7 linked regions of the Homo sapiens genome follow. The protein of the gene in region 4 interacts with the protein of the main gene of each other region in a biochemical or structural test. Each region holds a gene or a part of one and is shown on either strand. Other genes may lie near its edges.

Region 1 (3,500 bases), on a different chromosome or scaffold from region 4:
TAGATTCAACAGCTAGGAAATTTTTGTTAATTGTCCTAAAGAGGGGCTGGCAAAGAGAGGTCTCTCTCTATCCCTCCTCATCTGGCCAGGCCCGCCTACAGTCATTGCAGCTGAGGCCATTTAGCTGAGCTTGTCCTCTCTCCAGCAGCCACGTGGGACTCAAGCCTGGGAGCAACTAGCACTCTCTCCAGACTCTAAGCAAAGAGAAATGCCAGCCCTGGGGGCCAAATACATGGGGGTTGTCCAATGTCAAGGGTGTCCTCACACATGGAAAAGGCAGGCTCTCTCTGACCCCAATCCCTCGTGGTCCCTATTCCTCCCTATTCCTTTTCTGTTGCTGTGTCATTTACCTCTTCTCTTTCTTTTTTCTTCTTTTTTTTTTTTAGAGTCTCACTCTGTCACCCAGGCTGGAGTGCAGTGGTGCAGTATCGGCTCACTGCGACCTCTGCCTCTCAGGTTCAAGCGATTCTCCTGCCTCAGCCTCCTGAGTAGCTGAGACTACAGGTGTGCACCAGCCCACCCAGTTAATTTTTGTATTTTTAGTAGAGACAGGTTTTCACCATGTTGGCCAGGCTGATCTCGAACTCCTGACCTCAAGTAATCTGCCCACCTCGGCCTCCAAAAGTGCTGGGATTACAGGTGTGAGCCACCACGCCCAGCTCTCTTCTCTTTTTTTAAGGTGTATGTATATGGAGGGACATATGTGTGACTATGGGTATGTGTCTGACATGTGTTTGTCTACAAGATGGACATACATGTGTTTATAACAGGGAACAGCATGCATGTTGTACGGTTTTCCTGTGAACTAATACTTAGTTACAATAGCTACCACTTACTGAGGCCTTACTGTGTGCTAGGCAGTGCTTACATGCTTTGCATGAATGATCTCATTCAATCCTTGTGACAACCCCATGTGATAGAACTACTTTTATAAAACCCATTTAAGATGATGGAATGAGGTTCAGAGAGAGTAAGTGCCTTGCCAAAGGTTACACTGACAATGATTGAAGAAACCAGGACTTCGGTGCATCTGATTCAGAGCCCATGTTCTTAGGCAGGATAAAGACCTCAGCCATGAGCAGTGATGGCCCTTGGCTCCCCTGGTCCCAGGTCACTAGGTAGTGAGTTGGTCGTTTTCCTTTTCTTTCAATCATGTGCATGCTGGATGTTCTGTTCTTCACCTGTCTTCTACATCTCTCACAGTTTTTCTCTGATCCTCTATCCTGGCCTGCATCCATAGCTGTCATGACCCCAATCCCTGGGATCTATCTGTAAGGCATTTCCAAAGAGATGCAATGACGAGAGCCAGAACTCTAGCTAGAGCTGAGCAGCTGCTCCCTGCTGTAACATCATTGCTCCTCTGACCCTATCTAAAGAACCTTTGGTACATCCACTGCCCTGACATACCTCAGTGACTCTGACACCTATTTGGGAAGACACAATGTTACCTACTGGCCCTTGTTGGACAAGAGAAGGGGGTGGAAAGAGGGAGAAGGAATCGGTCATTACCTGCAGTCTGTGGGGGTGGTGGGTGTGGTCCATCCTCGGATGCAGCCAGGGCTTCTAGAGCCTGCAGAGTGGACACCAGGGCATCATCTAGCTCCTGGGCATGATCTCGAACTGTCCGGGTCTGCACACTGTCAATCAATGTCACTGGAATCTCATCGTACAGAAGCCCACGCAGGTGGCGTCCTTGTTCCTGGCTCTGGACAGCCCGGCGCTTGGGGTCATCCTCATCAGAGCTGTTGTCTCGGAAACCAGGGGGTGGGGCAGCAATGGCTGGCAACAGAGAAGTTGTCTCATCTTCCTCCTCCTCCTCCTCCTCACTCCCAGGTGGTGGGAGGGACATCAAATCTACTATATTGTCACGAGAGGAGCCAGGCTTCCCACCTTTGCGAGGGCCCAGCTGCTCCTGAAGTTTGGCTTTGCAAGAGTCACAGTAGAAATTCAGGGCTTCAGCCCCAAGGGAATTGTCCAAGGTGTAGGACCGGGCCCTGCTGGCACAAGGCTCGTGGTCTAGGCTAGCTGCATCAAAGTCATCAGGGACTACCTCATAACCTTGGCCAGAGCTTTTGGATGTGGGGTCAGACTTGGTTCGGGGCCTGGTCTCCTCAAAGAAGATTAGGTTCTCGTTGACATCTGTCCGGCTTTCCTGCTCCTTCCTTTGTTCCCGCATATGGAGGTAGCAGAAGCTGACAAGCTCAGAGTCGGCAGGTGGGGGCGTGCAGCGGCTCGATTTCCTGGGGCTGGTGCCCACGCTGCCCACATAACTACTCTCCTTTTTCCCCAGGTGGCCCCCAGTGACAGGGCGGTGGGCGCTGTGCATGTAATCTAAACCCAGAAAGAGAATCAACAGATGAGCCCTGGTGCCAAGGATTGTGAATGAGCTCCCTTGTTGTCTCTGGCCCATGTCTCTGTAGCACAATCAAGTGGCAGGTCCCAAGACAAAGCATTACCTGGCTGCCAAAGATTAGAGGTAGGGAAGTTGATGAGCTATGTTACTGCTGACCCTGAAAGTAGAGTGAATAGAGTCTAATAACCTGAGCTGCTAATAGCCCCATCACCTCTGAAATGGGAAAAGGCATGGGGTATGGTAGGGGTCGGGGTGAACACCCTGGTTTAGGGCCTGGTATCTGGGCACAGCTGGACTCTTACATGGATACCCTCTATCTGAAAGTCAGCTGTAAACGTATGTCCCACTTGGAACTGTTCCTACCCCTGTCCCCACCCCTTTTCAGAGCTTTTCCACCAGTGCTCTGTTGTTCTTGTTATCTTGAATCTCTTCTAGCAGAAGGAAATAAATCTGACAAGTTACTAATGCTTTAGTCAGAACCTGTTAAACAGGCTACATATAATGCCGAAGAGTTTGCATTTCAAAGAGGCCTGTTGATGGAGGGATCCTAAAAGAATAAGGCTCTATATTAGAATTCCGGGGTCTGAATGTGTAAAGTATATGGGAGATATGCTGGGATGTGCATATGTGGGAGGAGGGCAGGGGAAGCATTCTTATAATTCTTCAAATTTTATTCTTTTCTGCATTCATGCAGGGCCAGCCCTACCTGCTACACATACATATGGCAAATGCTCTCGTCAACCGCTCTTAATGATGGTAGGTGTGTGCATCTGAGAATTATCTATAGCAAATGCTTTATCTGTGAATACCTTCTCTCACTGTTTTTGGAGCTCTTCCCCATTTTATCTGTGAGAATATACTCGGACAGCAGACAGACAGATAACAAACAAGCACTAACTTAGGCTAAGGTCCTAATATACATGATCCTACTTATTCTTCATAACAACCCAATGAGGTAGTTATTATCATTATTCACATTTTAAGGATAAAGAAACTGACTCACCTAAGGTTACATAGACCAAGTGGTAGACTGGATTTCCGCCTAGGTCTGAAAGACTTCAAAACCCATGTTTTTAGCCATTACCCTTATAACTCATCATGGTGGTCAAGATGCTGGAAAACAAGCCTTCAAAATGCCACTCAAACT
Region 2 (3,500 bases), on a different chromosome or scaffold from region 4:
TGCCTTACTGCTTGAGTTGTGACATCTCATCTCCTGCCCTCAGACTGGGATCACTGGCTCTCCTAGTTCTCAGACCTTCTGACTGAGAAGGTCTGAATTATGCTACTGACTTCCCTGGGTTGCCAGCGTGCAGAGAGCAGAACGTGTAATTTTTCAGACTCCTTAATCATGTCAGCCAACTCCTCATATATTGGTTCTATTTCCTTACAGATCCCTGACTAATTCATTAGTGAAAATGAAGCTGGTATTCATTTAAAATAGACTGCTATAAACTAGGATGTTAATTGTAAGCCCCAGGGTAACCACTAAGAAAATAATTTTAATTAAGAGAAATGACACGGGAATTAAAATAGCATATTAAAAATATTTAACACAAATGGAAGAAATGGAGGAAAAAAGAAATAAGACATATAGAAACAAACAGCAAAATGGCAAATGTAAAGCCTACCTTATCAGTAATTACATTAAATTACATGAATGAAACATCCCAATAAAAAGTCAGTGACTGGCAGAATGGGCTACAAGAAACATAATCCAACTGTCTACAACAGACACACTTCAGATTCAAAGACATAAATAAAGCAAAAGACAGAAAAACATAACAAGATATGACAATTATAAACAGAAATTGTACCAAACAATGGCCCCAAAATACGTAAGTAAAAAATGACAAAGAGAGAAATAGACAAATCAACAATAAAGCTTTTGATACTCGACTTTCAATACTAACAGAACAACTAGACATGGAACCAGAAAATAGACCCTTTAACACTATAGACCAATTAGACCCAATAGACATATGGAGCACTCCATCCATTAACAGCAGAATTTACATTATTCCCAAGTACACACAGGACATTTTCCAAGACAGGCCATGTGCTAGGCCATTTTAAAAAAGGCCTCAAGGCTGGGCATGGTGGCTCACGCCTGTAATCCTAGCTCTTCGGGAGACCTAGGTGGAGGATCACCTGAGCTCAGGAGTTTGAGACAAGCCTGGTGCAATATGGCAAGACCCCGTCTCTACTAAAAGCACAAAAAAAAAAAAAATTAGTTGGGCATGGTGGAGTGCGCCTGTAGTCCCAGCTACTCGGATGCTGAGGCACAAGAGTCACTTGAACCCAGCAGGTGGAGGCTGCAGTGAGCCAAGATTGCACTGCTTCACTCTAGCCTGGGTGACAGAGCGAGATGCTATCTCCAGAAAAAAAAAAAGAAAAGAAAGGCCTCAATAAAATTTAAAGGATTGAACAATACACATTATGATTTCTCATTGCAATTAATTCCAAATGGATCAAAAACTGAATTATAAGAGAGAAAACTAGAAAACTCTTAGAAGAAAACGTACATGTAAATTTTTGTGACCTTGAATTGGGCAATGTTTTCTTAGATATGACACCAAAAGCATAAGCAAACAACAATGAACTTCATAAAAATTAGATATTTGTTCTTTAAAGGATGTAGGAAAGTGAAAAGACAACTGACAGAATGGGAGAAAATATATGCAAATCATATATCTGGTAAGGGTCTAGTATCCAGAATACATAGAAAATTCTTACAACTTAGCAAAAAGACAAATAATCCAATATAAAAATGAACTAATGATGTTGAGCATGTCATGTGCTTACTGGCCACTTGAGTATCTTTGGAGAACTATCTATTCAAATCCTTTGCCCATTTAAAATTGGATTTATCTTTTCATTTCTAAGAGTTCTTTATATATTCTGGATACTAGAATACACATGATTTGCAAATACATATATCTGCTTTTTCACACCATACATGAAAAAACAATACTGATAAGAATGTGCTAAACACAAACTTCCCTCCAAGTTAAAGTGTGAATTTAAAAGTGCAATCATGCCTCAGCCTATCCTGATCCCTTTTTTTTCTATTTAGTTTTTCCTGGACCATCATCTAAAGCAGGGTTGTCCAATCTTTTGGCTTCCCTGGGCCACACGGGAAGAAGAATAATTGTCTTGGTCCACACATAAAATACACTAACATCAATGATAGCTGATAAGCTTAAAAAAAAAATAATCCCAAAAGCCTTCCTGGGCTGCATGTGGCACAGGCTGAACAAACTTGAACTTAAGGTTTCATAACCATCTCATGAACAAGAAAAGTTCTCAGCAAGGAAAGAGGCTTCTTTAAAGGTTTTCTATTGTAAACTTTTTATAATGGCATTAAACTGTAATTTTTAAGAGGAAAAGTAATTCTGAACCTTGCCATAAACTAGGGCACAAACACACAATTTAAAAACAACAACAACAACTAGCACTTACAATTACCAAAGGCTTAAATGTTAAATCGTTAAGGGTGGGTTGGAGATGAGTGGTAGAGCGTAGGAGGAATGCTATATAGCTGATGTTGCTTGGCAGAATTTCAAAGAAACAATCAAAATGTTACATATTTAGTACAACATGTAGAATATTTTTCAAAGGCTTTATTTCTCTGTTCAAAGATAGAGACTGTCCATGTCTCTTAAAATTCTTCATTTCACTAATACATAATCAGTTAAAAATAGCAGTTTTATTTAAACATGTTCATCTTTCATAAATATTTTATCTGTAGGAGAAAAATGTTTGCTCTTCTCAAATCAAAACACATTTGTTAAGGGCAGGATTTCATTCAAATAGGAAGGTGATCTTAAATGTGAAATTATCAAATTTATGCAAACTACTGCTAATGCTCTATTTCTACCAATAATTAAGAGATTCCTGTAAACCCTAAAAGCTCAAGAGCAAAGGCACATGACAGCCATGCAACTTTTATACAATGACTCTTTGTTGCTGATGCTAAAATCTTATGAATTTCAATGAAACTTACAGACTTACCAATTTCTAACAAACAAGTGAGATTTGTATACCGAGAAGCCGCAAACAGTCGTAGTAATCATATTCTGCGCCGCATAACATCATTCTTCTTGCTAGTTTATGTTGGTTTTAGAACATGGCTGCAAATTTTTTTGACTTCCCATCACAAGGTGAAACCTATGTCCCCTTTTCCTTGGATATGGGTGGGTTTATGACTGCTTCCAACAGAGAAGGGATGCCAGGCAACTTCAAGGCTAGATCATATGAGGCCATGCAGCCTACTAGACACTGAACCACTTATGTAAGAACTTTAAATACCCTGAGGCTGTCATGCTGGGAAGGCTACCTGTAGCCTCTCCAGCTGACAAGTCCCACGCACCTAGTCATTCCCATCAAGGTGTCAGAAATGTGAATGAAGAAACCATCTTGGAAGTAGACTCTCCAGTTACAACTGTTGCAGTCCCTGGCTTTCAGCTCCTTCCCAGCTGTGGCACACATAAAGATAGCAGAGACAAGCCATCCCTGTTTCATCCTGTCTGCATCCTGACTCACAGAATCAACAAATGCTTGTTGTTTTATGTCAGTGTGTCTGGGGTGGTTAGTTTCTCAGCAATGAATAACTGAAACACAGATCAACAATTTAATTGGACTAACATGAGATGACTGTCAACTTTGGGCAAATAAACTGAA
Region 3 (3,500 bases), on a different chromosome or scaffold from region 4:
AAGTATTTCTTTGTTTTCAATTTTATTATCAAAGTACATAAGACCAATATTTTATAAGCTGTTTTTTAAAGTACTGGATGTGAAACATGGCTTACATACTAGCAAACACATGCAATTTGAATATTTCACACCTTAATAATTCATGCAAATGGTGAGAGACAGTATATACTTTCATTACCTCTTTTTAGCCTAGAAAGCCACTCAACTACCCTATAGTGGGTTCTGGTTATAATTAATAAAATGCTGAAATACAGGAAATCATTTCCACACCAAAAAAAAAATCATTAAGTAACTATTGTGTAGAAAAATAATCAACCAAATGAATGACGGTTAAAAGTATATACTGTCAACATGAAAAAGTATTAGGGACTGATATTAACAGGATGGACCTTTTGAGCAGCCATACTCATCTGTAATCAAGATTACTTTCATATTAGACAGCAGTAAAAAAAGAAAGTTAGAAAAGTAATTTTAATTTTTAAGGTGCTACAACTGATATTATGTACCCTCCCCTTCTCCCATGCCCAAGTCTGTTTTAAAACATCACATGCTTGTGCAGTTCACTTAATAAAACCAAGAATGTAATATAAAACAGCAAAAGAAAAATTAGTATTATTTTTCAGGTGATCATTGAAAATGTTTCCTTATTTCTTCCGTTCACCAAGTGCTGGTGATAAACAATGACATGACCCAGATCAGTATTGGTGACAAAGAATAAAAATGGAAATAAAGCTAATGATAATTTAGCATTACTGAAAAATATTATTTTAGTGCTCATGTTAAAACCAATTACTAAACAGAAGGTCAAAATACAAGTTTTCCCCCATTTAACTAGATATTTACTTCTTACAAAAAATACATATACATATACATATGTATCATGTACACAAATAATATTTTTATTTTATTAAAATTTTATAAATTAACCTCTACATATATAGTATGATTTTATTTTTCAAGTACAGAATTTTACTTGTCTCTCCCTGATTTTAAAATAACGATCATATAACTTCAGGTTTTTATAACATATCACTCAGAATCCCTCCACCCCTGCAGAGGATGTATTACTCGAGATTACAAAAGAACAAGTAACTTAAAACACTTACGGTAACTACTTTCACTATCGCTGGCATTAGAAGTTACATGCTCTGAAATTGCAGGACAATGAAAAAAAATAAAACAGTGTCATGAGTTTAAAAAGCAAATAATCAAAATGAAATGTTGAGATATAAGCCATATATAACAAAATAATTTTTTAAAAGCATTTTCTTTTTCTTTGAAACGTTTAAGTTTTTCAAATAATAAATATATATTAGCAAAGGAAAACTCCTGTAATTAAGGACAATGCCTTATTTTTGTACAACACAGTTTATGAACAAATCTATTATAAATAGCAAGTAGAATATGACAAAAAGGGCTAAGTGACCCTGAATTAGTCCAAATGTAGACATAAAACTCAAAGGAGAAAATACTGTTGGCACTATTTCAGTTTTTGAAACAGCGTTAACTGGCAAAGGGGACAAACTATATTTAAACAAATAGATGCCCATTTTAATGACGGGATGTCTTTGTAATTAAAAATAAATAGATGATCTTATTTTCAATCCAGCTTTGCTCCTGTTTCTGAAGATGAAAATCCATGTTTCTGAGATCATATAGATAAAGGATTGTAAAGGTCATAAATTCAGATGTCTCAGCTGGAAGGGAAGGCACTGATGGTGGCAATTGCATTTTAAAACCAACTAATATTAGAAGTCATAAATTCAGATGTCTCAGCTGGAAGGGAAGGCACCGATGGTGGCAATTGCATTTTAAAACCAACTAATATTTCTTAGAAACTCTGCTTTGATAAGACTGGCACTGGCTGGCTTTTGCAAAACATAAAAAAGACAATGAGAACAAACACACCCAGCCAGAAACTGCCTGGCCCTCCTTAAAAGTGACTCCATTTCACGACTTTATTGTTTGGTAAAACCATAGGCACTCTTCTCATCCATGTAAATGTCATCTCAAGTTTTCTCTCAATAAATATCTCCCTTCAATTAAACAAAGACTAATACTTTTATTTTTAAAAAATAAAAATAAAACTTTCAATGAGACAGGGAAATCTGAATTTTTATTTTAACTTTTTTTTTTTTTTTTAATTAAAGGGACAGGGCCTCACTCTGTTGCTCAGGTGGGAGTGAGGTGGTATGACTATAGCTCACTGCAGCCTCGCCCTCCTCTCCTGGGCTTCTGTGATCCTCCCATCTTAGCCCAGAGTGGCTGGGACTACAGGTATGTACCACCATGCCCTGCTAAAATTTTGTTTTTTTTTTTTAATAAAAGAGACAAGTCTCAACTATGTTGCCCACACTGGTCTCAAACTCCTGGCCTCAAGGGATCCTCCCATCTCAGCTTCCCAAAGTGCTGGGATTACAGGTGTGAATCACCACACCCAGCTGGAAATTTCATTTTTTTTTTTTTTTTTTTTTTGAGATAGTCTCCCTTTGTTGCCCAGGCTGGAGTGCAGTGGCACGATCTCAGCTCACTGCAACCTCTGCCTCCTAGGTTTAAGCGATTCTATTCTTGTGTCTCAGACACCTGACTACCTGGCACTGCAGGTATATAGCACCATGCCCAACTAATTTTTCTATTTTTAGTAGAGACTGGTTTCACCATGTTGGCCAGGCTGATATTGAACCTCTGAGCTCACGTGATCTGTCTGCCTTGGCCTCCCAAAGTGCTGGGATTACAGGTGTGAGCCACCGCACCTGGCCAAATGGTAGGTTTTTTAAAAGCTCATATTAAAATATTTCTTTCCATGTCACCACATGGGCTTGACAGCAATAATTTAAAATTGGTGTATAATATTCTATTAGATTGATACATTATTTACCTCGCTATTTATTAGATATTTTTATTTGCTTTAAACTGTTTTTCACAAGTATCAACAATTATGAATGTCTTCATTTATATATACCTTTTAACTTTCTGTCCTATTTCCTTAAATTTCATACCCAGAAACACGCCACATTAAAAAAAGAGTTATTCTGTTTACATTAGTATTGGTATTACCCTCTGCAATCTCTAGTTTGTAAACTAAAGAAAAATTAGTTATTGCAATGGGGTGAAGGGAGGGGAGTGTAAGTGGGAGTACAGAAGAAACAGAATTGGCAAATGTTCAGTTGACAATTATGAAAGCTGGATAAACAAATACCTGCAGGGTTTATTTTTACTACTTTTCTACTATTGAATATATCTGATATTTATATAATAAAAAGTTTAAGTTACCAAAATCTCTTCACTGTCTTTTTTTTTTTTTTTTGAGATTTCTCCTACTCACCTCAAACCCTCTAAGACTGCCAAAAGCTACGCCACAATCAAATTCTGCAGGTTCTTTCAAATATCATTTCACTTAGCTCTTCTACAATAAAGCCTCACTACTCAAAGTATGGTCCTTAGAATAGCGTCATCATAATTGTTTGGAATGTTATTAGAAAAATAAAATGTTTTTCTTC
Region 4 (4,041 bases):
GAATTCATGCCTTGTTGCCCCAGAACTCTTATAGTTTCAAGCTCTCTTATGGCCCTTGGGCTCCCCATTGCCTTTGGGATCAAGTCTAGGCTCATTAATATGACATCTGAGGCCCCCTGGGGTGATGCCTCAGCCTCTGTGCCTGCACACGCTGAGCTTCCCTGATATGATGGTGTCAAGGCTGTGCCCATCTCGTCACACCTTCCCCACAAACCCCGAATAGTTTAGATCCTGGAATGGAGGGCTGGCAGGGCTTCTGTGGAGTAGCTGGGCCAGCCCCCTGGTTTGCACACAGTCAGGGTGGGTCTTGCCCAAGGCCCAGTGCCTGGAGAGTGAAGCTGGAATCTGCACCAAGACTGCAGGACTCTGGTGCTCTTAGCTGTGTCACTGTGCTATGGTTAGTCTCAGGCGGGGTTGTCACCCCTGCTGCTCGCTGCTGCCTCCCCACTGGCAGATACTCCTCTAGGAAGCACCCCTCCTGCCACTGGGTTAGACACCTCCCCTGGGCTCCAGAGGGCCCAGCGACTTATGACTGCTGACTTCTCACCGTCTGCCCTGTGAGGCAGGGTGCCCCATGAAGGCAGGCGCCCAATGCTTCCTCTTCAAGTCCTCGGTGCCCAGTGAGGACTTGAAGAGGGAGACCCAGAGAGGGACAGAGCCCTGCTCCAGGTCACACAGCAAGTTGGGGCAGAGCCAGGAGTCCTAGAAGGGCCCCAAGACCCTCCAGGTCTCCCCTGTTCGTGGGACTTAATGGAGCCCAGGGATGGGGCAGTGTCTGTGATGGCCACCCCAGCAGAGGGCACTACTGCAGGGCCTCTGTTCTCTGCTTCTCCCAGGGGCCTGGGGCCAAGGACACCCTCTGTCCCTCCTGCCCCCACCCTCTGTGAAGAAGGATGTTCTCAAGATAAAAATACCGTCAGAAACATTCCCTGGTGTTTGGTGTGACTGTCGTCCACCCTGTGGGGCCAGAATCTTCTGACCTGGCCTCACCTCAGGGCTTAAGGGTGGACATTTGCCTTTTCTAGCCGCTTGGTGCAGCCTCTTTCTGGGGTCCATATGTCCAGCCCCCATCTTTACGCCACAGAATGTGAGGGGTCAGTGTCACTCAAGGTTCCTGCAGCTTCCACTTTCTGAGCATCCTCTGTGGGCTGGGCGCATCCCGAGCATGGAACAGCGAGGCAGATCCTGCCCTTGTGCGTTTTGTGGCTCCTTGCGGGCCAGGGGGGCTTCTGAGGACATCCAGCAGGCCACAGGGAGGCTTGGGCACAGTCAGCTTTCCGTCCTGTTGGGAAGCCTGTTTCTGCTTTCAGTGCCTACGTGGTGTCAGGAACGCCGGTCACAGTGAACGCCTGCAGGACCCACACTGCTGCATCGTCTCTGTGGGACAGATACTGAAGCCAGGGCTTGGCTTACCCTCGTGACAGTCTCCCGAGGTGTGTGGGGTCTCCTCATTTTGCAGATGGGGAGTTTCAGGCCCCAGTCAGCTGGGGGGCTGCCAGGCCTCTCCAGGGAGGGTGACGGCTGCCACCTCCCAGAGACCCGCTGGGGCGAGGCCCAGTGCCCGGACTGCAGCTTCGTCACCACCTTCAATTTCATGGCACACCCTCTGAGAGGCCTGGCAGGCGACACCAGCCTCATTTTTCAGGGGAAGCTGAGCCTCAGGAAGGGGAAGTGCCTTGCCCTGTTCCGTGGGGGATTTCAGCCCCATCCTCAGCCCAGGCCCTGCCCTCCCCTGCGGGACGCTGTGGGCCAGCCCGGCCTGTTGGCCCTCAGTCGTGGTCATGGGGAAGCACTGCCCCTGCAGCCCACCTCCCCATCCAGGATTGTGACCATAACCCCGGGAAGCATTTGTGGGACTTGGCGGGGTGAGCTCACATGGCGGCTGCTGTGGCCCCTGCAGGTGGCGGGAGCTCTGGCCAGGGCATCCGGAAGGCTGGCTCCTGTTTGCAGGGTGCTGCCCTGCCCTGTGACTTCAGGAAATTCGCTTCTCTGCTCTACGTCTCAGTACCCCTGTGTAGAGTAGAGCTAATTTTGCCTTCCTCCTAGATAAAAACAAATCCAGCTGGATTTGTGGTCTGGGGAATGCCCCTTTCAGGTAGTAGGGAGTGAGGGACGAGGTTGGGAGAGCCTGGTGCAAGCCAGGTGACCAGCAGGATGTGGATAGATGCTGCTGCCCACACTTCTGGCCCCCACCCCTGCTTGGCTCCCCATGGCCCTGTGGCAATATCCGACCTTCGCTGCTCAGAGTTCCAGCTCCAGGTGACTGTGCAGGTGACTTAGCTTCTCTCAGCCTCAGTTTTCCTATCTGTCCAGAGGGGAGAATTGTCCCTCCTCCAAGGCAGGGCTGTGAGCATCGGGATGACTGCAGCCAGCTGCCAAGCATGCAGGGCCAAGCACAGTGTTGGCTCACTCGGGGAAGGGGGTGGACCCAAGTCCCTGCCGTGGAGGTCCCCAGCTGTTTGATGTTGGCTTGTGACAGAACCTCTCTGAAACTCTGCAGCTCATCCACCTGTCCATCCATCCACCCGTCCATCCATCCACCCATCCATCTCTGAACCTCTGTGTCCCCATCAGTTTTGAGGATGGAATGGCTGAGAGAGGCAAAGTGTAGGCCTGTGGCTTCTGCTCCCAGAATGATGAGGGATGGGGAAGAAGGGGCTGGGGATTGGGGGACTTGGAGGGTGAAGAGGGACTGAAGGGCCACTAGAGACCAGGCAGGCCATCCCATTTCAGAACAAGCTGAGAGAGGGGAAGTGACTCACTCAAGGTCACACAGCTTATGAGGGGCAGAGCTGGGATTTGAATCTAGGTCTGTGTGCCTGTAAACCACTGTCACCTGTCCCAGGAGGCTGATGATGTGGGGGTGACTCACCAACAGTTGCCTTAATTCCAGCCAGAAAAACCAGTGTGACAAACCAGCCTCGGCTGTAACCTTGGAAAGGGCAGGCCCCATGAACTCCATGGCTGGGAGGTGCGGAGGTGAGAAGCATGTCAGGTGGCTCACCGTGGAGATCCTCAGAGCCCCTTCCCACCAACCTCTTCTCTGATTCTCACGGCACACTGGATAGGAAGGCAGGGGGATCCCTTTGACAGGTGGGGAAATTGCATCTTTGGGATTGCAGGGACCATGTAGGATGTATGTGTACCCAAGGCAAATCTCTGGCAAATTACTGATGTGTGCCCATCCATGTAGTTAGCCATGTGCCCACCTGCTCATCCATCTAGTCATCTATCCTACTTGCCCAAACACCCTATCCATCCATCTACCCACTCATCACCCACCCTCACACTCATCCACCCATCCATCTATCCATCTACCCACCCATCCATCCACCCATCCACCCATCCATCTATCCATCTACCCACCCATCCACCCACCCATCCATTCACCCATCTGTCCATCCATCCACCCTTCCATCCCTCTATCCATTCATTTCTTTACCCACCCATACACTCATCCACCTGTCCATCTATCCACCCATCCACTCATCCACTCATTCACTCCACCCATCCATCACCCAACATTCCATCCATCCATCCATCCATGCACCCGTCACCCATTCATCCATTAATCTGTTCATCCACCCACTCAACCATATACCCACCCATCCACCCAGCCATCCCTCTATCCATTCACTTCTTCACTCACCCATCCACTCATTCACTCACCCATCCATCCACCCAATCATCTGCCCATCCATCCATCCCATTCGTCTATCCATCCATCCACCCACCCATTACCCATCCATCCACCCATCCATCCATCCATCCACCCATTCACCCATCTATCCCTCCATTCATTCATCTACCCATCCGCTCAGTCACCCACCCATCTACCCTTCTGTTCATCCATCCATCCAATCATCTACTTTCACACTTATCCATCCATCTATCCAACCATCCATCCATCCATCCATTCATCCATCCATCCATCCATCCATCTTTCCATCCTATTATCCATTCATCCACTCATCCATTCACCCATTCATCCACTCATCCATCCTTCCTCCATACAGCCATCCACCCTCACACCCAACCACT
Region 5 (3,500 bases), on a different chromosome or scaffold from region 4:
TTGGGATGACGGACTCTGGGGGTAGATGGACATAAACCGACGTGAGGACCCAGAGGAGGAGCCTCAGCGAACCCCAGCCCCATGCCCATTCTGGCTGTGCTGGGAGTGACCCCGAAAGTCACAGTTCTAATCTCATCCCCCTGCTTCCTCTCAACAGAGGAGGAAACTGAGGCAGAGTGAGCTGACAGATTTGCTCAAAACAACTGACCTGCTCTAGTCAGACCAGAGTCGGGGCTGGAACCAGGCCTCTTGGCTGTCGGCTAGTGTGGCGGGCGGGAAGGGAGCTCCCCACAGCCTAACAACCCAGTGTGAATCTAGCACATATTTCCTGAGCACCTACTATGTGCCAGGCCGTGGCTGGGTATTTTCATGTTTTCATTTCTCTTGGGCATATGCCTCACCTAACCCAAGTACCGCCCCTATAGTGAAAAGATCGTTATCAACTATTTACGGATGGGGAAACAGTGGAGGGAGTGTCCTGTCCAAAGCCACACTGTGTTGAGGTCACAGAAGCAGAATTCTGACCCAAACTGTTGTTCGAGGTTCTTTGCCTAACCCATGCTGAGAAGGAGCTTGGAGTATTTTCAGCTCCCCAACCCCATCCCCACTTGGTCCTGCCCCTCTGCAAAAGTCTCCTGGTGTGGAAACTTCTCCCTCCCGTGCCAAGGCTTCCCTTCCCACTATAAGCTGCAAAGCCCCTGGGAGAAGGGCACTGGGCACAGAGGGGGATGGGGTGGAGCGTTTGCACAGGCGAGGCAGGATAAAGAGAGGAGGGGTGCAGGGCCCTGAAATATGAGGAGGAAGCTTGGGCCACTCACTCACCCGCCACATCGAACTCCACCTCCAGCACGACCTTGTGGGCCAGTGCGGCGTCCCGCAGGAGCTGGTTGGCTTCCTCCATAGTCCCGTCCTCGGTGGCAATGCCATTGATGGACAGGACACGGTCCCCCACCTGCAGCAGCCCACACCTGAACCCAGGGGGCCCGGCAGAGAGAAGAGGCTCCGTGACAGGTCCATTGGGAGACAAGAACGCCATGCAGGGCAGGACTGAACCTGGGTCACACCTCCTGGTCTGGGGTGACTCTCAGCTCTGCCCTGGCCCACCTGTGTATCCTCAGGAATCTGGCTAAGGGCTGGACCTTGCTGGACCTCAGTTTCCCTGTCTGTCCAATGGGGATGATGGCATGGGCCTTACAAGTTGTGTATACAGAGGACTCTGCCTTCAGGCAGACAGGGGTTCAAGCCCTGGGATTCCATGGGTGAGCTGTGTAATCCTGGGCAAGTGAGTCAGCTTCTCTGAGCCTCGGTTTCCTCATCTGTAAAATGGGGCTGGTGCTGGGGCTGATGCAATGGTTAAGTGAGATGCGCTTGTGAAGCTAGGGCTTGGTGCTGTGACTCAGTTTCTCTCAGAGAGTGGCAGGCTCAGTAGGGAGGGGGCAGGAGGCTCACCTCTCAGCCGGACTGTCAGGCTCGATGAAGCACACGAGGGGTGGGGAGGACAGGGTCTCGGTGGCGAAGATGCCGCCCTGGAGCTGGAGGCCAAAGCCGCTGAGGGGGTCTCCACAGAGCACGACCTCCGTGGTCTCCGTGTGCACAATCTGCCCGCCCGGCCCCACCGTGCTGGAGGCTAGCGACACTGTAGGACAGGTGGGCCCAGCATTCAGGTGAGCCGCCCCACGGAGGTCTTCCTGCCAGGGCCTGCCCATCCCGGGGCCCTAGGCACTGGAGCCAGAGTGCAAGGAAGTGGGAGCCCTGACTCAGTCTGGGACCAGACAGATCACAGCTCACTCTGAGCCTTGGCTTCCTCATCTGAACAATGGGATCGTTGATTCCCACCTCGTGGGGTGTGGCAAGGACTAGGGAAGACAGTGGCTGGGATTGACTGTCATGCTGTAAAGCAGGTTCTGGGGGGCAGTGTCATTTTATTGTATTATTGTGCTGTGATCTACTGTAGTATCTACTATATTATGTCACTCTGCTTTTCGGTAAGAGGTTTATTGAGATATAATTTACATACCACAGTAGTCACCTATTTAATGTGTACAATTCAGTGGTTTTTAGTGTATTCACAATTATGCAAACATCACCACGATGCATTTGAGAACATTTCATCACCTCCAGAAGAAACCCTGTTCCCTTCAGCCATCCCCAAAGATCTTCCTATGTCCCTCAGCCCTAGGCAACCGCGAATCTACTTTCATCTCTGCATTTGCCTGTTCTGGGCACTTTATATAAACAGAATCATGCACCATGTGGCCTTTGTGACAGGCTGCTTTCACTTGGCATAATGTTTTCAAGTTCATCCACATTTTGCAGGTGTCAGAATTGCATTCCTTTTTGTGGCTGAATAATATTCCATTGTATGGATACACCACATTTTGTTTATCTATTCATCCATTGGTGGATACTGCGTTCCTTCCACTATTTGGCTACAGTGAATAATGCTACTATGAACATTTGTGTATAAGTTTTTAGGTGGAGATGACACATGTTTTCACTTCTCTTGGGCATATACCTAGGAGTGGAATTGCTGGGTGATATGGCAACTCTATGTTTAACTATTTGATACATAAGGTTATTTAATAAATATTGTTTTACATTCCATATATGAAATATATTTGCATCATTAATATGAATCCTGAAAGTCATTTATTATTTATCAAACAAAATTTATTTGGTATTTCATTACTAATTATATTATTGTGTCATATTATATTATTAAATTATATTGTATATTATACATTACAAAATGTGTAATATGTTATGTTTTTAGGTATATTGTGTTTTTATATGTATTTATTTATTTATTTTGAGACAAAGTCTCACTGTGTCGCCCAGGGTGGAGTGCAGAAGCGCCACCTCGGCTCACTGCAACCTCCGCCTCCCGGGTTCAAGCGATTTTCCCACCTCCAGAGTAGCTAGGATTACAGGCGTGTGCCACCATACAAGGCTAATTTGTTGTATTTTTGGTAGAGATGGAGTTTCGCCATGTTGGTCAGGCTGGTCTCGAACTCCTGGCCTCAAGTGATCTGCCCACCTCGGCCTCCCAAAGTGTGGGGATTACAGGCGTGAGCCACCATGCCTGGCCTATTTGTTTCTTTTCACTACTATGTCCCCATAGTATGTACATTCAGTACTATGCCCCATAATTAATTAATTATAATTAATTAATAAATTACTATCAACAGCAATAATGATAGTACTTTCTTAGTTACACATCCCAGGAAGGAGACAGGCAGAGGAGTCGCAAGAGCCTCCAGTCTCCACATCCCCCACCTACGAACAGCATTTCTGCATCTTTTCATCTACATATTCCCCACTTTGGTGGCCAGGAAAGGTGGTTAGTAGAGATATATTTTCTCTCTCATCTGACTGAAATCTGTTTCCCATTTCCCTTTGGCTGCCAGGGAGTGTAGAACCATATTTAGCTTTTTTCAGACACCAGGTGACCTGTACTCCTCTCTTCTTTCACCTGGTTCTATCTCAAATGGCCCAGTTTG
Region 6 (3,500 bases), on a different chromosome or scaffold from region 4:
TTATTAGGTTGGTGCAAAAGTAATTGCAGTTTTTGCTATAAAAAATGGCAAAAACCGGCCAGGTGCGGTGGCTCACACCTGTACTCCTAGCACTTTGGGAGGCCGAGGCAGGTGGATCATGAAGTCAGAAGATCACAACCATCCTGACTAACATGGTGAAACCATGTCTCTACTAAAAATACAAAAAATTAGCCAGGCATAGTGGCAGGCGCCTGTAGTCCCAGCTACTTGGGAGGCTGAGGCAGGAGAATGGCGTGATCTCCTGGGAGGCGGAGCTTGCAGTGAGCCGAGATTGTGCCACTGCACTCCAGCCTGGGCAACAGAGCGAGACTCCGTCTCAAAAAAAAAAAAAAAAATGGCAAAAACCACAATTACTTCTGCACCAACTTAGTCAATAATAAAAGGCTAAAGTTTCTCAAAGCACCAATTTTGTGTTAATTAAGCAAAAAAAAAATTTGTTATAGTATCCTCCTTACAGTAGACTTTTTCTACTATTTCCTATGCAAATATGATAAAATGATTTTTAAATAAATTCTAAGTATATCCCCAAGATAAAATCAAAGTAAAAAAAAAAACATAGAAGATGAAGTTTAAACTCAAAATCACCATAATCTACCTTTCTAGCCATCTTTGGACATTCTCTACTTTGCATTATACAGTAAACAAAATTTAATATTTGCTATCGCTTTTCACCCTATCATCCCCGCCCACAGCTACTGCTTATCTCCGTGACTTTGGATGTCTTCTTCCCTTTGCCTGAAAACATGAAATTACTTGTTTAATTGTCTCATTACCCTATTGCAATATTCGTTCCTAGAAGACAATGTAATTAGCTTATATTCATTTTTGTACCTCCTGTGCCAATATAGTACCTAGTACATACACAAAGCCCAACTGGTGTCAATTGACTATTATTGGAATTGAAAATTACACCTAGGTCAGGAATTTCTAACATTTCCAGTTCTAGGGAAATCTCACAAGGTTAAAAATGTTTCTGGGAGCTTCTAACAGGTTTTTTTTTTTTTTGGAGGAGGGGGAAGGACTATTGCAGTAATAGGGTTTTTTTATAAACTAAGGCATAAAAGGAGGGAAAAAGAGAAACAGAAGCCCCATATCCCTGAAATTACTGACACAGCTTACCCTACCCTTCCTAGATGACTCAATTCTTGCCCCATAAAGTCTACTCCCCACATAGCAGTATCCTTAAAGCACTTCAATGAATTAAATGAGTTGTTTTGTGGTAAAGTGCTTAAGACAGTACAGAATCGTCACTACAAATTATTTATAAAACAAAAATCGGACAGGCGTGGTGGCTTATACCTGTAATCCCAACACTTTGGGAGGCCGAGATGGGTGGATCACCTGAGATCAGGAGTTAGAAACCAGCCTGGCCAACATGGTGAAACCCCATCTCTACTAAAAATACAGAAAAATTAGCCAGGTGTGGTAGCGGGCGCCTGTAATCCCAGCTACTTGGGAGGCTGAGGCGGGAGAATCGCTTGAACCCGGGAGGCAGAGGTTGCAGTGTGCTGAGACTGCGCCACTGCACTCCAGCCTGGGCAACAAGAACAAAACTCCGTCTCAAAAAAAAAAAAAATCATTGAATCCTCACAACTCTATAAGTAGATTCTAATAATACTCTCATATTATAGCTGAGGAAACTGGGGCAGATAGAAGTGAGGTGACTTGCACAAGGTCACACAGTGAGTGAGTGATAGAGTAAGGATTTGAACTCAAGCATTCTGGCACTTTTTCTTTTTTGAGACTGAGTCTCGCTGTATCGCCCAGGCTGGAATGCAGTGGTACGATCTCAGGTCACTGCAACCTTCACCTCCTAGGTTCAAGCAATTCTCCTGCCTCAGCCTCCCAAGTAGCTAGGACTACAACAACCTCGAACTCCTGGGCTCAAGCAATTCTTCCACTTCAGCCTCCCAAGTAGCTAGGACTACAAGCATGCACCACCAAACACAGCTAATGTTTTGTTTTGTTTTGCTTTGTTTTGTTGGCAGAGATGGGAGTCTTGCTATGTTGCCCAGGCTGGTCTTGAACTTCTGGCCTCAAGCAGTCCTCCTCCTTGATCTCCCAAAGTGCTCGGATTACAGGCAAGAGCCACAATGCCTGGCTTGAACTGCAAAATTCTTAAAAATGGGGATCATTTCTTATTCTTTATTCTAGTGTCCATGATTCCTAATCATAGTGTAGGCACATAATAAATGCTAAATAAATTTTAAAAAATAGTTTTACTTTACTTTTCAGTCTTCTGAAACCAGCAGTTCTGACCCTATCATCTAAGTATAGTTTGGCTATTTTTCCCTCAATAAATAATTGTGTACTTATCACATGTAATCATTGACCACTTTTCTGGCTAGTCACATGGCTTCGCAAAATGTTTCTGCAGTTGAACATCTATCAGCTTGCCTTTCTATTTCCCCAAAGTAATTCCTAGATATTTTACTGTACAGTTTTTCTTTAGTATTGTTTTGAAAAGATCTTAATACTGATCCTTGAAGCAATCTTTAGAGAACTGTTCCATTTACCTGACTCTCTCCAAGAGGTGTTCCATCTACTCCTTCTCCTTGTTTCTGATATCTTAGCCAGTTTCCTATCCATCATAATACAATGTGTCCATCCTCATTCTCTCTTTCTCAAATTGTATTTAGTGAAGAACCATGTTTACCACTTTTTGAAAGCTGAAACAGATCATGTTACTGCTTCTCTTTATTTAAAACATCCCATTATGGCAGGCACAGTGGCTCATGCCTGGAATCGCAGCACTGTGGGAGGCTGAGGTGGAGGATCACTTGAGCCCAGGAGTCCAAGGCATGACTGGGCAACATAGTGAGATCTCGTCTCTACAAATAATTAAAAAAAAAAAAAATTAGTCAAGTGTGGTGGTGCATGTCTGTAGTCCCAGCTACTCAGGAAGCTGAGGCAGGAGGACCACCTGAGCCCAAGAGGTCGAGGCTGCAGTGAACTGTCATAGTGCCACTGTACTCCAGACTGGGGGACAGAGCAAGACCCTGTCTCAAAAATAAATAAGTACATTGGGTGTGGTGGCTCACGCCTGTAATCCCAGCACTTTAGGAGGCCGAGGTGGGTGAATAACTTGAGCTCAGGAGTTGGAGACCAGCCTGGGCAACATGGTGAAACCCCGTCTCTATGAAAAATATGGCTAATAAAAACATTAATCAGGTGTGGTGACACACACCTGTAGTCCCAGCTACTTGAGGGGCTGAGACAAGAGGATCACTTGTACTCAGGAGGTCAAGGCTGCAGTGAGCCAAGATCGTGCCACTGCACTCCAGCCTCGGTGACAAAGTAAGACCCTATGTCATAAATAAATAAATATAAAAACATTCCATTATATTATTATGATATCTATCAGTTTGCTCAGTCATTTAATGAACACTTACTGACCACTGTGTGTCATGCACTAGACAAAGCATTAAAAAAACATTAAAGACACATGCATGCATGTGTTCACTGCAGCACTATCCATA
Region 7 (3,500 bases), on a different chromosome or scaffold from region 4:
AGGGTACAGATGCACAGCACACCTCAAGTCATGCATCCCTGCTCAGAAGCCTTCAACTGCTCGCCCTTCCAGGGGGAGAATCACACTGAAACATGCTGTGCTGGCATTCAAGACCTTCTATCATCTGGACTTCACTTCCTAGAACTTTTCTGCAGGCAAACTGAACTGCTCAGCAGCCCCTACTTCCCACCCAGTTGCTTCTGTTTACCTCTTTGCCTGAATCACCCTTCACCTCCATCTTTTGGACCAAATTTTACCCAGCATTAAAGACACAACTGAAATATTTCTGGGCCCTTCTCTGTTTTGTCAGCCTACAACTTCTGCCCAAGTTGGAGGACTCTCCAGCATTTACAGTGTATTTCCTTGGCTTTTCTTTTCTTTTTCTTTCTCTCTTTTTTTGAGATGGAGTCTTGTTCTGTCACCCAGGCTGGAGTGCAGTGGTACAATCGTGGCCCATTGCAACCTCTGCCTCCCGGGTTCAAGCGATTCTCCTGCCTCAGCCACCCGAGTAGCTGGGATGGGAAGACCACTTGAGCCCAAGAGTTTGAGACCAGCCTAGGCAACACAGCAAGTCCCCATCTCAAAAAAAAAGGGAAAAAAAAACAATTAATACCACCCCAAAGCCAGATCAGCCATTCATGAAAAATCACAAACTGAATTTTATATATATATATATATCTCTTCAAGTTAGCTTTCATCTACCTCTGATTCTCGTCTGTCTTTATACTAGTCATTAGAACAATGTTGAGTGAAAAATTTAAAAGCCAAAGCTTCATGTGCCCTTAAAATGTCTGCTTGTCCTCTTCACTCCTATCAATGGCACTCCTCCGTCTTAAAGTCTGGGTTGCCAATTCCCAGCGCTAACCATATTCACTCATTTAACTGAGCACCCACTGAGCCCTGGTCTCAGGAAATCATTGTCTAGGTAAAAAGCGAGGCATTTTCATAAGTCACAATGACACCAGACAGAAGGTTTGGAGGTGCTACATCAATGAAACTACATATATGCCAACCAAGATGCACCTGCAATTATATTTAAGAAGATATATCAAGAGGGATAAAGAAGAACAGATTTGGCATCAATTTAGTTCAATCTTTGGCATATGTTACAACGTGCCTATAAATCCTTAGAGGGTAGGGCCTGTGGGTTATTTATGATCATTACATTCCCTGCATGCTTAGCACGGTGTCTTGGGCATAGCAGGGCTTTGACAAATACAGCACTCTGTGCCTCCCAAGCTCTTTTGTAGGCAAGTGAGAGAGAGTGGACTGTAACAGCCACTAACAAGAAGCCGTTTTAATAGATGGAACTCTAAAACGAGGCTGTTTTTGCTGCTTTAAAGGAGACTTAGCCTTATTAAAATCAGGGGATCAGTTATGCCATTCCTGTTGCCCATCTTTGTTCTTTGATAATCTGTGCAATTCTGTAGATGATGGAAGACCATTTAGTACCTGAGAATATCGACTGCTCGTTCCCAGGAAAGGTCTTCAGCAGGCTCATTGTTCATTTGGAGGATCTGATCACCAGGGAAAAGCTTGCCGTGAGCAGAGCCTCCTGTTGGACAGAAAATAAGTAATTGGTGCTCATGCCGGGAGGACCCAGACTCTATGTGTAATAGCGGCACAGTTAAATGGCACCCTGATCCAGTTCCCAGGGGCACTGGCTCACTCCCCCGCCTTCAGTCAGGCTTGGGCTCATGTGGATCTTAATTTTCCTGTTTATAAACCATGGATAATGTACCTATCATCTATCACCAACTTCCAGGGATGTTAGAAGACTGTCCTGAGAAAGAAAACTAGCAGAAACCTTCTAAATCAATAGAGTTGGCCAGTAAATCTACTCCATTCATCTCTAAAAAACTCTGGTGTGTATGTGTAGTAAATAGAAATCAATACATTTTAACGAATCCCAGATTAACACACCTCAATTATGAAAACAAGCACTGGACTTTCCCCACCTGCTCCTCTCCACCCTGGTACAGCCTGTATTTCACAAGGTTCAAATGAAAACAAATCAATGGTTTCTATTACTGTCTGACCAGAAAGTATCCCCAGCTAGGAGCGTGTGGGGTTCAAAGAGGAAGGCTAGCTTAGCCAAATACTTTCACTGCCCCTGAGACCAGCCAGGGAGCCAAGGGTGGGCAACGCCCTAGCCAAGGCCAGTGGGAGCCTGGGGTTTGGAGCGGCAAGTGCACTTGAGGCTTCCTCCCTCCCAGCATCAAAGTAAGGTGCAAAGCCCAAGACAGAATTAGGTGTGCCTTTTCTAACTTCCCAGGTAGGATTTTCTGCATTTTGTTATAGGATAGAGAGATCGGGGAGATTTGGGGCTATTTCCCCTTAAGAAACCAAACTCCTTTCTCATTTCCCAGTCATCCCCTACCTGCTGTGACAGCCACCACTGTAAGGGGAAGGCTCTCAGAAATGTGAAATCCATAGTCCTGGAGGAGGGTGTCTTTGTCTATCTTTACTGTGTGTCGCACAGGGATGAGGGTCTGAGTTGGGTTCCTGGCGGGCCCATCAGCTGCAGCAACTTTAGCCCTGGAAGAGAAGGAGTATGTAAAAAAGAGAAAGAGAAGACTCTAGTTGTTGGTCACGAACTGGGTCAGCCCTAAGCATCATGGAGAAAGATGCAGAACTGAGCAGACACCAATTCTCCTCTTGAGACAAATAAGACACCAACTCCACTAGCAGAACTTAGGACTGTCCTCTAAAAGAGAAGTCGTATTGCCAGGCATTCTTAATGAGCTAATGCTAAATATCTAGAAAGCGCCCAGGAAGTGCTATGGACACACAGAGAAGGGGGAGAGCAGTTTCACCTTTGTAGGGCAGGGAATAGGGAATCAGGGACGCATCTGGTACTTGGAAGAGGTGGCATTTGAGCTGCACTCTGAGACATGTCTAGGGTATACCTATACAGCCCAGATCCTGGCACACAGAAGATATTCAATAACTGCTGCTGAGTGAATCAATGAATGAATGGATGGATGGATGGATGGATGGATGGATGGATGGATGGACGGACTGACAGAAGAACAGGCAGATGGGCATCCCAGGCAGGACATACTGCTGGAGTCAGAGGTACAGGAGAGGAAAAACATGGATGGTGAGCAGAAACAAGGAGTTGTCAGGTTCAGATGTTTGATGACGGATAATTTTATAGCAAGATTTTGTCTTTGGTGATGTTTTTCTTTGTTTCTTTATGATGAATTTTGCTTCCCTTTAAGCTTTGTAACTGCAAGGTTTCCAATATAAAATCTCAGATAGCAAGGACTCCCTCTATATCAACTTTTAAAACATGTATGTTCCTTAAAAGCAGGAAAGTAATATTTTCTATCTCTCAAAGAGAGAAACCACAAAGCGAGTCACAAGTTATTTGTCATTCACCTGTGGCAAATGATTTTTCCCTCTAACAGTCAGTGGTTCTTTCTGAGGAAGGTCAAATAGTGATGGGATGAGGTGTTTATTGTCATTATGAACAACAGAAATGTGAAGGAGTAATA

What was found.
Region 1: the proteins of KCNJ18 (region 4) and FRMPD3 interact in a test that uses a peptide from one of them, tested with the Homo sapiens proteins (one large-scale study listed by IntAct).
Region 2: the proteins of KCNJ18 (region 4) and LNX2 interact in a test that uses a peptide from one of them, tested with the Homo sapiens proteins (one large-scale study listed by IntAct).
Region 3: the proteins of KCNJ18 (region 4) and DLG1 interact in a test that uses a peptide from one of them, tested with the Homo sapiens proteins (2 studies listed by IntAct, with this or other methods).
Region 5: the proteins of KCNJ18 (region 4) and GRIP2 interact in a test that uses a peptide from one of them, tested with the Homo sapiens proteins (one large-scale study listed by IntAct).
Region 6: the proteins of KCNJ18 (region 4) and SYNJ2BP interact in a test that uses a peptide from one of them, tested with the Homo sapiens proteins (one large-scale study listed by IntAct).
Region 7: the proteins of KCNJ18 (region 4) and FRMPD1 interact in a test that uses a peptide from one of them, tested with the Homo sapiens proteins (one large-scale study listed by IntAct).

The regions. Positions count from the first base shown.
Region 1 is NC_000023.11:107,596,152-107,599,651, reverse strand, and holds part of FRMPD3 (FERM and PDZ domain-containing protein 3), read right to left. Parts: intron 2,332-3,500; coding exon 1,510-2,331; intron 1-1,509.
Region 2 is NC_000013.11:27,575,530-27,579,029, forward strand, and holds part of LNX2 (ligand of Numb protein X 2), read right to left. Parts: intron 1-3,500.
Region 3 is NC_000003.12:197,068,113-197,071,612, forward strand, and holds part of DLG1 (disks large homolog 1), read right to left. Parts: intron 1,149-3,500; coding exon 1,107-1,148; intron 426-1,106; coding exon of another isoform or gene 390-425; intron 1-389. UniProt on the Homo sapiens protein: Essential multidomain scaffolding protein required for normal development. Recruits channels, receptors and signaling molecules to discrete plasma membrane domains in polarized cells.
Region 4 is NC_000017.11:21,691,282-21,695,322, forward strand, and holds the start of KCNJ18 (inward rectifier potassium channel 18), read left to right. Parts: upstream 1-1,241; 5' UTR 1,242-1,433; intron 1,434-4,041. UniProt on the Homo sapiens protein: Inward rectifier potassium channels are characterized by a greater tendency to allow potassium to flow into the cell rather than out of it.
Region 5 is NC_000003.12:14,512,843-14,516,342, forward strand, and holds part of GRIP2 (glutamate receptor-interacting protein 2), read right to left. Parts: intron 1,637-3,500; coding exon 1,450-1,636; intron 969-1,449; coding exon 823-968; intron 16-822; coding exon 1-15.
Region 6 is NC_000014.9:70,407,091-70,410,590, forward strand, and holds part of SYNJ2BP (synaptojanin-2-binding protein), read right to left. Parts: intron 1-3,500. UniProt on the Homo sapiens protein: Regulates endocytosis of activin type 2 receptor kinases through the Ral/RALBP1-dependent pathway and may be involved in suppression of activin-induced signal transduction.
Region 7 is NC_000009.12:37,706,454-37,709,953, reverse strand, and holds part of FRMPD1 (FERM and PDZ domain-containing protein 1), read right to left. Parts: intron 2,539-3,500; coding exon 2,381-2,538; intron 1,556-2,380; coding exon 1,453-1,555; intron 1-1,452. UniProt on the Homo sapiens protein: Stabilizes membrane-bound GPSM1, and thereby promotes its interaction with GNAI1.